3 linked regions of the Homo sapiens genome follow. The protein of the gene in region 1 purifies or fractionates together with the protein of each later gene. This does not show direct contact. Each region holds a gene or a part of one and is shown on either strand. Other genes may lie near its edges.

Evidence for each region.
Region 2: the proteins of DYSF (region 1) and ADPGK purify together in Homo sapiens (affinity purification with western blotting, with the first as the bait; one study listed by BioGRID). This does not show direct contact.
Region 3: the proteins of DYSF (region 1) and KLHL41 purify together in Homo sapiens (affinity purification with western blotting, with the first as the bait; one study listed by BioGRID). This does not show direct contact.

What each region holds. Positions count from the first base shown.
Region 1 is NC_000002.12:71,469,557-71,473,210, forward strand, and holds part of DYSF (dysferlin), read left to right. Parts: intron 1-3,654. UniProt on the Homo sapiens protein: Key calcium ion sensor involved in the Ca(2+)-triggered synaptic vesicle-plasma membrane fusion.
Region 2 is NC_000015.10:72,773,739-72,777,392, reverse strand, and holds part of ADPGK (ADP-dependent glucokinase isoform 4 precursor), read left to right. Parts: intron 1-2,295; coding exon 2,296-2,521; intron 2,522-3,654. UniProt on the Homo sapiens protein: Catalyzes the phosphorylation of D-glucose to D-glucose 6-phosphate using ADP as the phosphate donor. GDP and CDP can replace ADP, but with reduced efficiency.
Region 3 is NC_000002.12:169,516,119-169,519,772, forward strand, and holds part of KLHL41 (kelch-like protein 41), read left to right. Parts: intron 1-2,071; coding exon 2,072-2,257; intron 2,258-3,654. UniProt on the Homo sapiens protein: Involved in skeletal muscle development and differentiation. Regulates proliferation and differentiation of myoblasts and plays a role in myofibril assembly by promoting lateral fusion of adjacent thin fibrils into mature, wide myofibrils.

The sequences.
Region 1 (3,654 bases):
AAATGTATGGGGCTGGGCTGGCCCCACTTTCCTTGCAGTTGTTCCCTGTCTCGGATGTAATTTCAGGACCTGCCTCCCAAAATAGACTATGAGCTCTGGGAGGCTGGACTCTGAGGGCAATTTTTTGGCTTCCCTGTCTAAGCACCTCTATTAATAGTAGAGGCTACTAATGAATACTTCTCATTCTTTTGTTTTTCTATTAATTAATTCATTAACTAAAACTACCATGAGTAACTGGGCCATAGTAGATATTTTTGACTGATTGTGTCAACGAGCAGCTTAATTTCCTATAGCATTTAATTGTCTGTACTTCTTTTCTGCCCTGCCCATTTTCCATTCCTTAATGTGATTATTTATATCCCTCTATTCATGCAGTTAGTTCATTGAACAAATATTTACTGAGTACCTACTACGTGCCTGGTGCTTTTCTAGGTGCTTGGATGCATACAAGAACAAAACCAGATCCCTACTGCTTTAAAGCTGAAACATCTTATTTCCTTGAAGGCCAGATCTGCTGCGTCCCCACTTGGTGAATTTCTGCCCTGTGTCATCAGCCAGGAACCCAGAAGTCATTACTGACACTTCCCTCTCTCTCATCCTGTCAGGGCGTCTCCTCCTCCAGCCTCCCCCTCCCACCTCTTCTCTTCTTGATCTCCTGGGGGTCTCTAGATTTGGGGCAGGAGTTGGGGGATCTTATAGAACTAGTTGGAGGTGGATTCCTGTCGTCAGGGAACACTCTTAACTCACCTATGTAGGGAAAGTGGGCTGAAGGCCCCGGACTCTCTGAACCTAGCTGTTTACATATTACAAATGACTTAAAATATTGAAAACAGCGGCCAGGCGTGGTGGCTCACGCCTGTAATCCCAGCAATTTGGGAGGCCAAGGCGGGTGGATCATGAGGTCAGGAGATCGAGACAATCCTGGCTAACATGGTGAAACCCTGTCTCTACTAAAAATACAAAAAAAATTAGCCGGGTGTGGTGGTGGGTGCCTGTAGTCCCAGCTACTCGGGAGGCTGAGGCAGGAGAATGGCATGAACCCAGGAGACGGAGGTTGCAGTGAGCCAAGATTGAGCCACTGCACTCCAGCCTGGGTGACAGAGTGAGACTCCATCTCAAAAAAAAAAAAAAAAAAAAGAAAAGAGCTTTCTCTTCTCTTCCTTCTTTCCTTCCTTCCTTCTTTCCTTCCTTCCTTCCTTCCTTCCTTCCTTCCTTCCTTCCTTCCTTCATTCCTTCCTTCTTTTTTTTTTTTGAAATGGACTTTCACTCTTATTACCCAGGCTGGAGTGCAATGGCACGTTGTCGGCTCATTGCAACCGCCGCCTCCCAGGTTCGAGTGATTCTCCTGCCTCAGCCTCCCGAGTAGCTGGGATTACAGGCACCTGCAACCATGCCTGGCTAATTTTTATTTTTATTTTTAGTAGAGATGGGGTTTCACCATGTTGCCCAGGCTGGTCTCAAACTCCTGACATCAGTCAATCCACCCACCTTGGCCTCCCAAAGTGCTTGGATTACAGGTGTCAGCCACCCCGCCTAGCCTGTTTTCTTTTTATAAACATAATATGTACTTGCTGTTAAAAATGACAAACTACAGAAAGGCCATGAGGCAAGAGTAAAAAATAGCCCCAAATCCTGCCACTTTGAATTAACTTGTTAACAATTTGACACATTTCCTCCAAGATTTTTTTTCTTAAAAATTTTAGTTATAAAATTTAACATACAAGGAAAGTGCAGAAGATATAAATATATGATTTAATACAGTAGTTCTCAACTGGGGGCAGTTTTTTCCTCAGATGACATTTGCCAATGTCTGGAGACATTTTGGGTTGTTGCCACAGGGGTTGGGGGCACAGGGTGTTTATCTACAGGGTAGAGGCTGAGGATGCTGCTAGACATTCCACAGTGCAAGGGGAGGTCCCCCACACCAACCACAGAGTGATTCAGCCCACATAGTAATCATGCCACGGTTGAGAATAAATATGTGTGTGAAGAGAATAACTATGTAATATCACCCAGGTCAAACAGGTCAAGAAATAGCACCTGGCCAGCCCCATTTCTCCACCAGAAGTAATCCCATCATAGATTTTTTTTTTCCCAAATGTTTGCACATTTGCTGAAAAATAAACCAGGGGGCCGGGTGTGGTGGCTCACGCCTGTAATCCCAGCACTTTGGGAGGCTGAGGTGGGCGGATTGCTTGAGGCCAGGAGTTCCAGGCCAGCCAACAGGGTGAAACCCTGTCTCTACTGAAAAATACAAAAATTAGCCAGGCATGGTGGTGTGTGCCTGTAATCCCAGCTACTTGAGGGGCAGAGGCACAAGAATCGCTTGAACCCAGGAGGTGGAGGCTGCAGTGAGCCGAGATCTCACCACTGCTCTCCAGCCTGGATGACAGAATGAGACTCAGTCTCAAAAACATCAATTAATTAATTAAAAAAAAATCCAGGGTCATTTTTTATGTCAGTAAGTATTCTTCTATAACACCTTTATAAATATCTGCGTAATATTTTCTTATATGGATGCACCATCATTAATTTACTCAACCCCCTACTGATGAATATTTAGGTTATATAAGTGTTTATATTTATATCCAGTGCTTAAATTATACAGTCACTGTGAGGCATATTCTGGTGACTACATCTTTGGCCACATATTTAATTATTTCCTTTGGGTAAATACCAGAAGATGAATTGCTATGTCAGAGGTTATAGACAGATTTAATGCGTTGCTGCATTTCCCAAATTGTTCTTGAAGTCTGTATCAACTTTATCCTCCTGTCAGCCAAGTATGAGGGCTTATTTTTCTAATAATCCTGCTAACACACAGCATTGTCCTGTAAATCTTTGACACTTTCTTTCTTTTTTTTCTTTTTGACAGAGTCTCATTCTGTCGCCCAGGCTGGAGTGGAGTGGCGCGATCTCGGCTCACTGCAAGCTCTGCCTCCCGGGTTCACGCCATTCTCCTGCCTCAGCCTCCCAAGTAGCTGGGACTACAGGCGTCCACCACCACGCCAGGCTAATTTTTTGTATTTTTAGTAGAGACGGGGTTTCACCATGTTAGCCAGGATGGTCTGGATCTCCTGACTTCGTGATCCACCCGCCTTGGCCTCCCAAAGTGCTGGGATTACAGGCGTGAGCCACCGCGCCAAGCCAACACTTTCTTAAGGTTCAAATAGTATTTGTGATACTTCATTGTTATCACCTATTCGTATTTATTCTTACTGAATTACTTTTTCATTTGCCCATGGTGGAGCATGTTTGTCTTTTTCTTCATTAGTTGCAAGTGCTCTTTATGTATTGAGAATGTTACCGTTTTTGTCATAGATGTTTCTAGTATCTTCTCCAGTTCTGTTTGTTTTTCTTTAATTGGCAAGTAAAAATTATATGTAAATATCTTCCCCAGTTCTAATGTAAATATCTTCCCCAGGCCTTCTGAGTTTAAAGACTACTCTTCTTGAAGTGCATTTCACCCTGGCTCCCTCCCTTTTTGGCCACTTCTGTGGTTCCAGCTAGGATTTAGGAAGGTGGGGTGGAGGGTGGTTGACGGGGAGAGGAGCAGTGCTCTGCTGATGATAGGGGAGACAGCTGCCCAGTTCTTGGGGTGTCCAGGCCTGAGAACACCATGGCAGGGCAGGTGTCAGAATGACCATCTACCTC
Region 2 (3,654 bases), on another chromosome or scaffold:
TAGTTATTTTCAAAGACAGGTTTCCCTCCATTTCTGAACCTTTACTCTTCAGACTCGGGACCCAAATCCATTTGGATACAATTTTTTTAGACTGGGCTGTCTGGAGGAAATGGTATCCCTCCTTACTCAAGCCCTCACTGTCTGAAACTTAGGAACCTACTGGCGTCTGAGAGCTACAGATACTTGTATTCCTGTTGATTCTACCAATCTAATGTTGCATTCATTAGAAATAAAGGGCACCATGTCTGAGGTAAAATTGAGACCAGTTTGCAAGGTGTGTTTGGTTTCTTAACATTGAAGGTTGTGAAAGGAAAGATTTTAAACATATCTTTAAGCAACTGCCACGTGCATGTCCAGAATGGCCCCTTCTGTGTGTGTCATGGAGAAGTTCTGGCTTATATTTTCAGTGTTTCTTTACTAGAAATCATCCCTCTTTTAAAGAGAAGGGCCAAATACAGTAGCTAGATGTTTTATGCACTGAAAGGCATAGTAAATCTTAGGTTATGCTTCTCCAGTTGACCAGAGTCATTATGTGTGTCTTGAACAAGAAACTGAGTATTTAAATGCTATTTGATAGGCAAAACTCCTTTCAAAACATGAATCCCTAGGGGAAGAATTAATAAAAAGGACCCTTATAATGAGGATGCAGTCTCTTTGTGTCTTGAGGGAGGATGTCTCTTCCTTGCCCTTGTAAATCTTCCTTAAGTGATGTAAATAATATCTAGTCTGCATACAAACCTTTTTAAAGTTATGTCATTTTAAAAATTCTAAAAGGAATACAAGCATGTTAAAAGTAGAAATATACCTGGTAAAATTCCTCTTCATCCCAGTCTCATTCCTCTTCATTTTTGAAAGAGACTAAAAGGGAAATACAACTATGTATTTTACACCAAAATCTCATCCATTGGGACATTTTTATTAATGAGTTTACCTTGTGGTTTCAGAGCTGCTCAGAATTAACTCTGAAGCCCAGTCACCCGTATCACTAGGGGTGGTCTCAGTTTGCCGGCTGGGAGCTGCCTGTGTGGTAATCCAACCTCACTGGCCAGAATGACATCCCAATAGGCAGAGGCAGGAATAAAGATGACCATGATAGGGGTAGGGGCGGGAAGACCTCATCTAGCTACCTTAATTATTTGAACGTTCTCTTTAAAAGAGGGATGACTTAGCAAAGAAACCCTGAAAATGTAAGACAGACTTTCTCCATACACACATAGGAGAGGTCATGCCAGACAACCTTAGTACAAGTTGAGCATCCAGAATGCTCTGAAATCCAAAACTCTGGGGCACTGACATGATGCCACTGATGTATATTAAGTACTTATATGTGAAAATTCCACCCACACGTAAGGAATAGAAACTTTATTTCATGCACAAAAGTATTTAAAACATTGTATAAAGTTACCTTCAGGCTGTATGTATAAAGTATATATGAAATGTGTTTGGACTTGGGTTGCATTCCCAAGATATCTCATGTATATGTAAATATTCCAAAATCGGAAACACTCTGATCTCAAGCACTTCAGATAAGGGATTCAACCTGTACTTTATAATTTCCATCGAGACAACCAGGAGTGGCAGGTCTTTAACGTTCATGGGTCAGTCCTGTGAACACTGGCCAAAGGGTGAGTTCTTAAAATGCTGCAGGTGTGCCTAAGTCTGTAAAACACCACTAAATTCTAAGAGGCAGGGTTTCAGCTGGGAGTACTCAGGCATTTAGGAATTTATTGTATCTTACCATCCTCATTTGTTTTTAGAGGGAAGATGCCTGATACCTAGCCTTTGACTGAAACACATATTTTGCTTACTCTGCGCCAATTGCTGTTCCTAAGTATACATTCACTTATTTAATCTTAACCATAGCTCTATGAGTTAAATGCTCATATTATTGCCATTTTGTGGATGAGGAAACCGAGGCACAGAGAAATTAGTGACTTGCCCAAGTCACACGGCCAGCATGAATCCTGTTTGGCTCTGCCAGCGTTTTTCTCAGAAATGTTACATTTTTGTTACAGTAGCTTTGTTCTGAAATGCTAAGCACCTATCTTCTCACTTTGTAACTAGTGTAAAAGTTTGCCAAATTATTGAAGAGTCCTGTGTTCTGATGCTAATACATAAATCCAGTTAAAGTAATTTTTCTCCTGCCATGTGCTGTTTACTTCCCAATTCAGGTTTCAGACCTACTTCCTGTTTTTTCTGTTGAATAAGGTTCTGAGAAACATTTTCCTTTTGTTAAATGCAAAATGGCTACTTGGTGCTTCTGCTGCTTTCACACAGTTTTTTTCCTCCTTCTAGAGTCAATGCATGTGTTGATGTGGTGCTCTCAGGGGTGAAGCTCTTGCAGGCACTTGGCCTTAGTCCTGGGAATGGGAAAGATCACAGCATTCTGCATTCAAGGAATGATCTGGAAGAAGCCTTCATTCACTTCATGGGGAAGGGAGCAGCTGCTGAGCGCTTCTTCAGTGATAAGGAAACTTTTCACGACATTGCCCAGGTTGCATCAGAGTTCCCAGGAGCCCAGGTCTGTTTGGTTCAGCAATAGTAAATTAAGGGTGGAAAAAGATGCCTTTTTAATATGGTTCCTAGAAGCAAGCAAGCAACTTTTCATTCCAGTTTGAAGAGGAGGGGAGCAAAATCACCCCTGGTTGAAAACTGTGGGTCTAGGTTGATGGTTCTCAGACTTGAGCATGTGTCAGAATCATTTGGAGAGGCTGTTGAAACACAGATTTCTGGGCCTACTACCAGAGTTCAGATTCAGTAGATGTGGGATGGGACCCAAGAATTTACCTTTCCAGCAAGTTTCCTGGTTGATCCTGTAGGTCTGAGAACCTCCTTTTGAGAACCACTGGTCTGCAAGGTAGAACCTGTCGAAGTTAGAACCTTAGTGGTTTCCAAGTTCACCTGGTGATTATATACAAAGCCCTGCATGGTCCAGGCACTTCCTGGAGGTTCACGTGGAATAAGAGGCAGTGCTGGGGCTGGAGACCCAACCATGGCTCTTCCTACCTCACCCCAGTATGCCTGCTCCTACATGTACCCTCATGCCTCTTGAGGCTGAGTTTTGGTTGGTTGGTTATCTCCCATGTCTTGCCCCCACCCCATTCTTCCTCCTCATTTAAACCTCCCTTTGGCTGGGCACCCAGTCTGGTTTGGTAGTTCTAGCCAGGGAAGCTCTTAATGCCATTTTTAATTGGCACCTTTCACAGGCAAACCTTTGTGACTACTTTTATTTTGATGACTTAAGATTTTAGGCCGGGCACAGTGGCTCACGCCTGTAATCCCAGCACTTTGGGAGGCTGAGGCAGGTGGATTGCTTGAGCCCAGGAGTTTGAGACCAGCCTGGGCAACATGGTGAAACCCTGTCTCTACAAAAAATACAAAAAATTAGCTGGGCATGGTGGCATGTGCCTGTGGGAGGATCACCTGAGCCCGGGAGGTCAAGGCTGCAGTGAACCATGACCGTGCCACTTCACTCCAGTCTGGGCAACAGGGTGTGACCCTGTCTCAAAAAAATTTTAAAAATAAGTTTTTTGTCTTCGAAGCTGCCTATTTGAACATTAGAAATGGACATAGGCATTACCTAGCTGAGTTTCTAAAGGTGACAGCAAGTTAAGATTTCAGTTATCATTTTGACAACTGGGATCAGTAGTGAGA
Region 3 (3,654 bases), about 98 Mb from region 1:
GCCTGATTTGGCTTGTCATCATTTGCCCAGGCCATTGAATTAATAGTGATGTCCAACCCTGAAAAGGGAGCCAAAATTTAGAATTGTAAGGGCAAAGCAGGAAAGGAGAGTAAAATATAGAAATGTGTTAGATGTCAAGAACTCTATTCTGGAGTTAATGATTATTGGGTATTAGTCAATTTAAATGGTAAATATAGCACAGAAAAGGCGATTTTAAAAAGCAATGGTTTTTAAACATCTACCTGTATTCAAAGATAACATATTCTAAAATTTTTATATCCTCCCTAATCCCAGCTATTCCTATCAAATTTAAAGGAAGGTATATTATATGCTTACCTGGTGCCAGATCTTATTTTGGGCATTTTTCCTGAGTAAACTGAATGGAAAATCACTACTAAAGAGCATTCTGACTTTGGAAACACAGGAACCCTGCCAAATGATTTAAATTGTTTCCTTCAAGCAGCATTAGTAACTAGGAAATTGATATGTCAGTAAGAAGCATACAGTTCTTGTCAGTAGGAATATATCAATCTTGAGAATATGATTAACTAACACAACACTGCTTGACAAATGTCAAAGTCAAGAACTTTGAAATGAGTCATTATCTAAAAGTAAGTGCTGGGCTGGGTGCAGTGGCTCATGCCTGTAATCCCAGCACTTTGGGAGACCGAGGCAGGTGGATCACCTGAGGTCGGGAATTTGAGACCAGCCTGTCCAACGTGGAGAAACCCCGTCTCTACTAAAAATACAAAATTAACCGGGCGTGGTGCCGTTTGCCTGTAATCCCAGCTACTAGGGAGGCTGAGGCAGGAGAATCACTTGAACCCGGGAGACAGTGAGCTGATATCGCGCCACTGCACTCCAGCCTGGGCAACAAGAGCGAAACTCCGTCTCCAGAAATAAATAAATAAATAAAAGTAAGTGCTGAATTGCACCAGTTCCCACTAATGAATTTGAAGAACGTGATTTTGGATAATGTTCTTATCAAGAAGTGTTCAAATGATACCAATAGTCAAATATTAGAGGAAATGCTTCTACTCCAGATAACTGGTCTTTTACACAATTAAGAAAAAAATTGTCCTCACAAAAAAGTTAAGGTGTTTTTCATCACCAAATATATCCAGTTAATCAATTATTATTTGAAATTCTGAACTCCCATCAAATTATAGATAACTTCAAGGAACCATAAAAAACATACTAAGGGCGGGGCATGGTGGCTCACACCTGTAATCCCAGCACTTTGGGAGGCTGAGGCTGGAGGATCACTTGAGCTCAGGAATTCGAGACCAGCCTGGCCAACATGGCGAAACCCTGTCTCTACCAAGCATACAAAAAACTAGCTGGGTGTGATGGCACATGCCTGTGTTCCCAGCTACCTGGGAAGTTGAGATGGGAGGATCACTTGAGCCCTGGATGCGGAGGTTGCGGTGAGCCAAGATCGCACCACTGCACTCCAGCCTGGGTGGCAGAGTGAATAATAATTCAGATGAGTCCAGGTCTTTCTGGTAGCATTTAGCATGTAAAACTGTTGTCATGATTCATCAGCTCAGATGATTTGTTGTCTAATCCATAGTCCCAGATTTCTTAAAATGCACTGGTATGTTAGTGCTAATATAAAATAAAATGATCTATCATATAAAATTTAAAGTAGGTATATTTGCACCTAATTATTCTTTAAGTTAACTGATTCGTTCCTAGGATATTCAGATAATAAATAAACTTACCATTTGTTATTGAGGTGCAATAAAAGGTTTATGATTTTATTTTTTACTCAAATAGAGTAAAAAAACTTCAATTGAATTTAGTAGATACGATTAAAATCAGCTGTGCCTGGGGTTCTAAGCAGCTATCCAGAAGTAAAGGTACCCTATCTTCCAACAGTAAAATTAAGTTATAGTTTTGGTCCCCACATTTGGGCTTGTCCTTTGTTTAGTGGCATATGTTCAAATTAAGAATTCTTTGGAGTTTTCTGATCCTACTATATATTTTTCATGACAAGCAAAGCCAAATTATTAGTGAAGGTGCTGTCAAAAAAAGGTTCTAAAAGGAACATTTGTTTTTCTGTTTACAGAAAATGTACAAACAGGGTGTTTATCTTCAACCCCAAAAAAGGAGATTGGAAAGATCTGGCTCCAATGAAAATTCCTCGTTCCATGTTTGGAGTAGCAGTCCATAAAGGCAAAATTGTGATTGCAGGAGGTGTCACTGAAGATGGTCTTTCAGCTTCAGTTGAAGCTTTTGACCTTACAACAAATAAGTGAGTTGCCACATCTTAGTATATAGCATGTGAACAACTATACATTTTAATTGTTAACTTTGGATAAAAAGTTATCTTTCTAATTAGGATGTGGGGAGGGGAGGGTACAGAGCCACAGATTACAAAGGAAGTATTTTCATCTGGGTTTCTTTTGTTGTTACTGGATGTAAATCTTGTCTAACATTCTGATGCATTATATGTCTGTAATCTGGAACACATGACCCTTAAGTCAGTGTTGTCATGCTCTATTTGTCCTTGTTATTAACTTTGTGAATTTAGAAATGCAAAGGTAATACTTGTGAATAATTATGATTATTTTTAAGAGACAAGGTCTGGCTCTGTCACCCAGGCTGGAGTGCAGTGGCACAATCATAGCTCACTGCTGCCTCAAACTCCTGGGCTCAGGTGATCCTCTCACCTCAGGCTCCTGAGTAGCTAGGACTACCACTATGCCCAGCTAATTTTTGTTTTTGTTTTTGTTTTTGGTACAGACAGGGTCTCACTATGTTGTCCATACTGGTCTCTAACTCCTGGCCTCAAATGATCCTCTCACGGTGGCCTCCCAAAGTGCTAGGATTATAGGTGTGAGCCAGCACACCTGGCCCTGAATAATTGTCTGTGTAGATGGATATACATGTCTCTGTGGAATCATTTGATTTTAAATGTAGTTTCTTTATGAAAAGATCTTCACTTAACTTGTTAATGATTGATATCTGTAAAGTATGAATGCTTCCCAAGTTTTCATTCCTTTACGCTGTTTATAATTTTATTAAAAATTTCATTTTTAAGCTTTTATTGACTTAATGTGAAAAGATATTTGACAGCTATTCTTCATATAAAATTGGTCTTTTTAAAATTTTTGAGCTCACACATCTGGATGAGTATGTACCTTTTATATTCCTAGTTTAGCAATGAAGAAAAAAGAGAAATATTATTACTTTTTTTAGAAACATGTATGCCTGACTACAAAACAGACTTTAGTATCTGAAAATTACAAGGAACTTTTGTGGAACACTATTTAAATTATCATTAAAAATAATGTTTTCGAAGACTGTAATGTGGGTAAACACTCATGATGTAAGTTAAGAAGCAACACACAAAAATTGTAAATATCTTCTTAGTTTCATTTATATGTATGGAAGCTTAAATGTACATGCTTTTTAAAAAGATGACAAAATTACACCAAATTGTTGCTTGTGATTATGTCTGTAAGGTATGATTATGGAGATATCTGCTCTCTTGTATACCTTTCTGTACTTTCCAGATTTTCTCAAACTTTTTTTTTTTTTTTTTGAGACAGGGTCTCACTGTGTCACACAGGCTGGAGTACAGATTTTCTATAATGTACATATATTATTTTTATAATTAGAAAAAAATCGGCTAATTTTTTGTATTTT